2 separate regions of the Homo sapiens genome follow, and region 2 is linked to region 1. A link means that fine-mapping ties the variant in region 1 to the expression of a gene that starts in the linked region. Tissue or cell type: gastroesophageal junction. Region 1 holds a variant in brackets; the other region holds the start of a gene. All regions are shown on one strand. Distances are from middle to middle.

Region 1 (4,000 bases):
AGCCATAAAATAGAATGAAACCTTGTCACTGGAGAAACATGGATGATCCTGGAGGATATTAAGTGAAATAAGCCAGAAACAAAAACATAAATACTACATGTTCTCACTCACATGCAGAAGCTTAAAAAGTTGATCTCATACAAGTAGATTAGAATAAGGGTTACAAGAGACTGGAAAGAGTAGGGGAAGGGGAGGATAGGAAGAGATTGGTTAAAGGTTACAAAATTACAGCTAGATAAGAGGAATAAGTTCTAGTGTTCTATAGCATTGCAGGTGACTATAGTTAACAATAATTTAGTACATATTTTCAAATACCGAGAAGAGAAAATTTTGAATATTCCCAACATGTTTGAGGTGATGAATATGCTAATTACCCTGATTTTATTACTATACATTGTATGTATCTAAACATCACTACGTACCCCATAAATATGTACAATTATGTGACAATTTTTAAAAATGTAATATTAAAAATCACCCATATAAAGCATATGTTAATACTTCATTCCATTGTATGAGAGAATAACAACCCATTGTATCATTCTATCACATTGTGTTGATTCATTCATCAGCTAATGAACATTTGGTTTGTTCCTACTTTGACTAGTATGAGTAATGCTGCTATGAACATTCATGTACAAGTTTTTGCATTGATATATATTTTCAATTCTCTTTCATATATACTTAGGAATGGAATTGCAGGGTCTTATGGTAATTATACATTTAATTTTTGAAGAACTCCCAACTATTTTCCAAAACAGCTGCACCATTTTTCATTTCCCCCAGTTACATATGATTGAAAATCAACTTCTCCACACCTTCATCAAAACTGTTTCTGTTCATCTTTTGGTTAAAGCTATTCTAATGGCTATGAACTGGTATCTCATCGCAGGTTTGATTTGTATTTCCTAATGACTAATAACTTTGAGCATTTTTTCACATGCTTATTAGTCATTTTCATATTTTTTCAAAGAACTATATATTTAGATACTCAAATTATTTGCTCATGGTTTAATTGAGTAATTTGGTTTTTTTATTTAGTTCCAAGCATTTTTTGTATATTCTGGGTGTAAGTTCCTCATTAGATATGTGACTTGGAAATATTTTCTCCCATTATATGAGTTGTATTTTCACTTTTTTGTTGGTGTCCTTTAAAGCACTAAAGTTTTTAATTCTGGTGGAGTTCAATATATTTATTTCTTCTTTTGTTGAATGTGCTTTTAATGTCATATCTAAGAAGGCTTTGTCTTACTGGAGTTCACAAATATTTAGTCCTATATTGTCTTCTAAAAGTTCTATAGTTTCAGCTCTTAAATTTAGGTTCTATTATCTATTTTGATTAATTTTTTTGCATTATGTGAGAAAGGGGCCCAATTTCATTCATTTGCAATATAACCATTAGGTCATTACAGCACCATTCATTTAGGACTATTTTCCCCATTGAACTGTCTTGGCACCCTTGTTGAAAATCAATTGACCATAGATGTATGGGTTTATTTCTAGATGCATTTCTGTTCCATTGATCTATATGTCTGTCTATCCTCATGCCAGTACTACTACACTGTCTTGATGACCCTAATTTTGAAGTAAATTGTGTATCAGGAAGGTAATTCCTTGAACTTTGTCCTTCTTTCTCACGATTCTCTTGGCTGTTCTGGGTCTTTTGAATTTTAGAATTGTCTTGTGAATTTTTACCAAAAAAAGGCAGCTGAGATTTTGATAATGATTGTCTTGAATCTATAAATCAATTTGGGAAGTACTGCTATCT[C/T]AACAACACAAATTCTGCCAATCCACTAATATGGAATGTCTTTCTATTCATTGAGATTTCACTTAATATCTTTCAACATTGTTTATACTTTTCAGTATATGAGTCTTAGACTTCTTTTGTTAAATAAATACCTGAGGATTTTATTCTTTGAGAGGCTATTATAAATGGAATTGTTTCTGTAATTTTATTTTTGGATTGTTCATTGCTATTTGTAGGGAAATACATTTGATTTTTGTTTGTTGATTTTGTTTCTGCAAGCAATTACTTTTGAACTTAGTATGCAACCTTTTAATAAAATTAAAATATACTTTCCCTGGTGGAAAAAATGGGAGAGATAGTATGTATTGTTTCCTTTCATAGGGCAGGCCAGGCCTGTGCTAGTCACTATTAATTTCCACAACTACTATAAAAAAGCAATTAGCTCCATTTTCAAGTGAAGAAACCATTTCAGAAACTTAAAAGCTGTGTGTGTGTGTGTGTGTGTGTGTGTATGTGTGTGTCTGTGTACTTTTACATTAACACAATTTTATTGGTAGAGAATTTACAAGTATTTATATTAGCCTTACTTTCTTTTCAGTATTCTAACATCACTTTACAACTTTCAAACTATCCTTGCTCCTCTTTGATAGAAAAATATTGTGCCCCTTGGTTAGAAGCGCCTGAGTAATTGGTCGAATTTTCTGCTTTAAATCCAAATGTCTAATAGATCGCAAAAGCCTCCCATAGTGAACTGCTTCTTGATTCCCTCACAAATGAATGAGTCTATTTGTCTTTTTTTCAGATCTTTGTGATAGTTACAAAACTTAATATTTCAGCTCTGGTAAAGGTGGTGCCTTTCAGGTACATTTTGTCTTGTGAGTTAATGCCATAGAAGTACAAGGGAAACAGACATGTAAGTGGTCAATGACATTCTTGAGGATGTTTAGAGTTCCCTTGAGCCCCCACAACTATCAGAAGGGATGGGTGTACTGAAGGGTCATGAGAAGGGAAGGGCATTGGTGCTATTCCTTCTGCTACATGGAATTTTCCAGTGATATTCTGTAGAACTACACTACATGTTCTATGAAAGACAAGGTTATTTGGTCAAATGTACTTGGAGACTGACAATTTATATTTTTAAGGCTGTGACATGACCTGTAGAAAACGATTTTTATAATCTATGTAATACAGCATTACCAAACTGTTTGACAAAAAAACTACTTTTTTCACAGAATACATATTAATATCTCTTAGAATTTGGAAAAGCATTAGCATCTTGGAGAAGTTTTTTTATCTATAACAAAATAACCTCTTAAATAGTTGATTTATGCTAAGCTAATTAATCTCTATGTGCCTCAATGTCCTCATTTGTAAAACAGGTATAATAATTATATCTACATCATATGGTTGTAATAAATATAAGTTATTATTAGTAAAGTACTTAACCAAGTTAATATTTGTAAAGCACTTACTATTGCTTGGCTTATAGTAAATAGTATATAAGCATTTGTTAAATAAAATATATTTTAAATATTATAGTCAGTTATTAGTAAAACTATAATATTATTACAATTCCATTAAAATATTGCTGTTACTATTTTATTATGAGCTCTCTATTAGAATTCCACTCAGAAAGAAGTAGACCTGGGATAGCATTTATTATATAATAACTTATTTCATAATCTGCTTCCAAACTTTGCACTGGCTTTGTAAGTCATAAAAAATTATAAATCCAGATTTTGTTGTATGTTGAAAGCCAAGAACAATTAAGTAAGTGGAATAGGAGAACCTAATAGAGCCAGAGAAGCTGAGTTTGGGCTTTCCAGCTTCCTTGCATGCCTCACCATGGACTAGGAAAAAAAAGCGGAGGTGTGGGGGATTCCTTCAAGTCATTTGTCTTGAGGCAAAAAGGTTTAGAAGAGGAATTCCTTTCATATAACTAAGGTAAATTTTAAAGATTGTTCTACATCTGTTGAATTCCTGAAAATTACTTTGTTTCTAGGTTTCATTTTCTGGCAGGAGAGCCCAGAGGAGAAGTCCTTGATAACTCTTTCACTGGAGGAATATGTAAAACTGTCAAAAGCAGTAGGACAAGTAATCCATACCGTGTTCCGGCCAATCTGGAAAATGTCGGCTTTGAGGTATGACAGCCTAGCATGGTGGCAACTCCAACACCGTCAGTGATTATAAGCTAAATTTCTCATGCAAAATTAGTGATGAATGAAGGGACAGAATAAAAAGGTGGTGAACCAT
Region 2 (4,000 bases), 26 kb before region 1:
AGCAGCACACATCTAAATATTGTTTAGAGAACACCTATATTCTTTGCATGCACAGAGTCAGACCTGAGCACAACTGCACACAAGTATTCAATTCCTAGCTCTGAAACAATCACCTACTCATCAGTCCCAATTAGCCTACTTCTACTTCCCAAAGCCACTGGACACTTTGTTGTATGTATCAGACCAGAAATATTTCTCTCTGGGTTGCAACTTTTCCTATAAGGGCCAGACGGTAAATATTTTAGGCTTTTCAGGCTGGAGAGCCTCTGTTGCCAGCTTCTTAACTCTACCATTGTAGCACAAAAGCAACCATAAACAATGGCCAATTGTGTGACTTTATTCCTATAAAACGTTATTTACAAAAACGGGCATCAGGCTAGTTTACCAATCCCTGCTCTAGAAAAAGGACTCATGAGTGAGATATGTCATTTAACCTTCCAAAAGAACCCAAGATGGAGAACCCAAATACATTGTTGAAAAGATTCTAGATTCTTAGTTGGTGCTGGGTCAATTCTAGTGTTTGGATCACAGACATTCGCATTCCATCTCAAGGATTTCCCCTTACCATCCTTAACTCTCTCCACCTGTGTTTTTCCAGTGCCACAGCATACAATCTTACTTCTCTGTCCTCTTCATAGCCCACATTACAAATAAAGTCCTCTTTAAGCTCATCCTACTGGCACCTAACTTTGCATCTCTCTGTATTATGACTTCCAGTATTTGCCTTTAGCTCCAAACACCTTGAACTCAGGACAAATGAATTTTATTTTAGGACCTCAAAGACCAATTAAAGAAAGAAATATGCAAATTAAATGACATATATTCTTGTCCAATCACCAAATATTTCTTTTCCTGTTTATCTTCTCAGGTAATCAAGGGTGAAGCTGCTATCCCAGCCCCAAACTAGCTTCAACACTGGTCTGCAGCACACCACTCTACTTTCTCTTTAGGCCCAAATTTCAATCTTTAAAATCTCAATGTAGTATAAGAGAGAGAAAAAAGACTGGAAATCAGATCATCTGTATTCCAGTTCTGACTTACTCTGGCCTTGGGAAAGTTACTACCATGTATATTAAACTATGTGACCTTTGAGTGGTGGGTTCCCAGCTGTGTTTCAAGTAATCTTTAGACTTGCTGAGATCATCATTTCCCACCATGTGATAAAAATCTAAGCTGTCTAAGGAATATTTGTTTTAGTTGTTTTCTACTGCTTTGAAAAAAGTTTGAAAAACACTTGTTTTACAAATGAGGGACCAGTGTTCCAATGAGGTATAGTGATTTATTGAAGCTCACATAGCTGGTAGCTGCTTAGTGCAGAAACAAGACTAGAATATGTATCCACATTCTCAGTCCCTATAGTTTTTTTTCTTTTCTATTGCACTATTTTGTTCTGCTTCACCTTAGGATGAAATCCATTTTACTTCAATCTAAAGTTAAATTGCAACCATTTCAGAGAAGCGTAATCATCATTACATATAAAGAGCCCATTTGATCATTGCTATTTTAATTCTTTCCAAATTAAATTTTCTGTTTGGTTTTGCTGGCATATAGAAACACTTTTTACTATAATAAACTTGTGTTGATAAATCATACTAAATTCATTTATTAATTCTAATGTTTGTAGATTCTTTTGAATTTTCTACATACACAATCACATTGTCTCCAAAAACATTTCTTAAATAGTTACCAATAACTATTCTATAATCAAAAACTAAGAATCTATACATTCCTAAGGGGGGCAGCAATTTTAAGCAATTAATCTAAAGGATTCTTTAAAATGGAAAGAGAGATTTCTATGCAGTAGCAATAGCTACTACAATAGCCCTTGAATTGAAAACTCACTGAAAATTCAGGACTCTGTGTAACATCCAACACCCAGAGTTTCAGGGTTACTACTGATTGGTGTAATCATTTGCAAAGTTCAAGTTCCAGAGAACATTTATTTTGACAACCCTCTAGGTGTTGCTAGGCTTCTGGGATATGACAGCATTGCCTTGTGTTAGCTAGCAATAAGAAAAGAAGCTTTGTTTGGATTAACATATATACCCTCTTCATTCTGCATACCTATTTTTTCCCCAATAATTTGCAGCTTAGGTCCGAGGACACCACAAACTCTGCTTAAAGGTGAGTAATATGATGATTTCATTTTCAATCTTAATATTTCAAAATTGTTAATCATGTTTCCAACAAAATTACAATTTCATGCATAAAAATATGTAACTCAGACTATAACCATTTCTTTGTCTTTCTTTTTTATAATTGCTTTGTTTAAATCTGAAAAGAACCAGAGGTCATGTTTTTTAAACAAATGTCATTCCAGAGGACATTTGAGATCAAGTTTCTCTATGAGTTAAATTAGTTAAAAGTAAAGCAAACATACTCTTTAGCCAAGGTCAGTCATGCACCTGGACTACCCAGCTTACCTTGGCGATAGTAAAGGTAGAAAGATAGAAAGGCTCATTTCTTGAGCCTCTGGGCATGCACAGAAAAAAATAATAAGAAATAAGAAATTCAGTAAGTTTACATGGAGATGTAAAGGAAGAACCTATAGCTGGGGATAAACTAGAGCATCCTCAGAAATCTGTTGGGTAAGATATGCTGAACTGCCTTGCAGACAAATGGTTCATGTGAGTAAAATACATTAGAAAGTGACAGGTTAGAATAAGATGGGCTTCATTTTAATTGAAATTCTCTAAATGCTCATAAAGCTATCATCAATGGTTCAATGGGATCACTGATTTTTGGAAAACTCAAGAGGGGATGGCAACTATGAGAAAACTGAAGAATTTCTGCTTTTCTACGATGGCACTGAAGTGGAAGACTTTTTTCCTATCTTCCTCTATTGACCGAACATTCTTTTATTCTATGTTTGTATGAAAATTGTACAGTAATGGGTAAAATGCCTGTGTGTAATTTTAGATACCTCCAGAATGCCTAGAGATGTGGAAATTAATAAATAAGAAACCATATAATACAATATGCTAGGCCATCATAACAAAAAAATTCAGAGAAGTAATTATTTTTATTTGATTAAAAATTGTTGCTGGGCTTGGTGGCTCACGCTTGTAATCCCAGCACTTTGGGAGGCCGAGGCAGGTGAATCACAAGGTCAGGAGTTCAAGACGAGCCTGACCAAAATGGTGAAACCCCGAGTTCACTAAAAATACAAAAATTAGCTGGGTGTGGTGGCAGGGGCCTGTAATCCCAGCTACTCGGGAGGCTGAGGCAGAGAATTGCTTGAACCCAGGAGGCTGAGTTTATAGTGAGCTGAGATCCTGCCACTGCAGTCCAGCCTGGGTGAAAGAATGAAACTCTGTCTCAAAAAAATAAATAAATAAAAATAAAATTGTTTTAACATAAAACAATTTGTATTCCTAATAATAGAATATTAAAAAAGAAAAGCTACCAATTAGCTCTTTCATTAGTACCTCATCAAATAAGTTTTAATGTTACCATCTTAATTTATATCAGGCTCCATATTGCCTCAGAACAGTTATAGCTTAAAGAGCGATCAGAATATTTTATAAGGGTTCTGTTTTTGCAGTTTTTGATGATAATTGGAATAAAACTCACCCATACCTTTCAAGCTTTTGGAAGTTAAAAGACAGTGTCTGCTGAGAACTGAGAATTAGTAATCTCTTGCAATTTAACTTCTCCAAATTATTTACATGAAAATTTCACCAGAAGCTTTAAGAATTTGTTTTCTCTACAATTGAGGAAATATTCTGGAAGATATCTGTCTTGTCCAACATCTAATAAGAAAAAAAAACAACAACAAAGTATCTATTTAGTTTTTCTTGCTGAAAAGGTCCCTGTATGAGAAAATTCCAATTTTGGCAGTGGGGGGCAAGGGTGAAGGGTATAGGGGAGTGGCTTCTCTAGTCTATCTAGTGGTTGAAAGGAAAGCTTCACATTATTTGGGAGCCTCAGCTCCCAAATGTTTGGGACTCACATTATATGTCTGATCACGACTTAAATTCTATCTGGCTACTATTGTCCC

Alleles and levels. Alleles are on the strand shown, and positions count from the first base shown. SD is a standard deviation of normalised expression in the study named.
For the expression in gastroesophageal junction of the gene that starts at base 1,968 in region 2, T is the low allele of the variant in region 1 and C is the other (small effect, 0.31 SD a copy in GTEx).

What was found. PIP is the estimated chance that this variant, and not a neighbour inherited with it, causes the effect.
Region 2: C6 starts here. The variant in region 1 is the best candidate, but not a certain one, in a credible set for the expression of C6 in gastroesophageal junction (GTEx, PIP 0.56).

The regions. Positions count from the first base shown.
Region 1 is chr5:41,185,958-41,189,957 of GRCh38, reverse strand. C6 (complement C6) reads left to right here. Exons shown (of 18, transcript NM_000065.5): 6 at 3,750-3,888. Among named protein-coding and RNA genes, the nearest start is that of C6, 26 kb to the left of the region's middle. The variant C/T (reference allele first, on the strand shown) is at 1,769.
Region 2 is chr5:41,211,500-41,215,499 of GRCh38, reverse strand. C6 (complement C6) reads left to right here and starts at 1,968. Exons shown (of 18, transcript NM_000065.5): 1 at 1,968-2,124.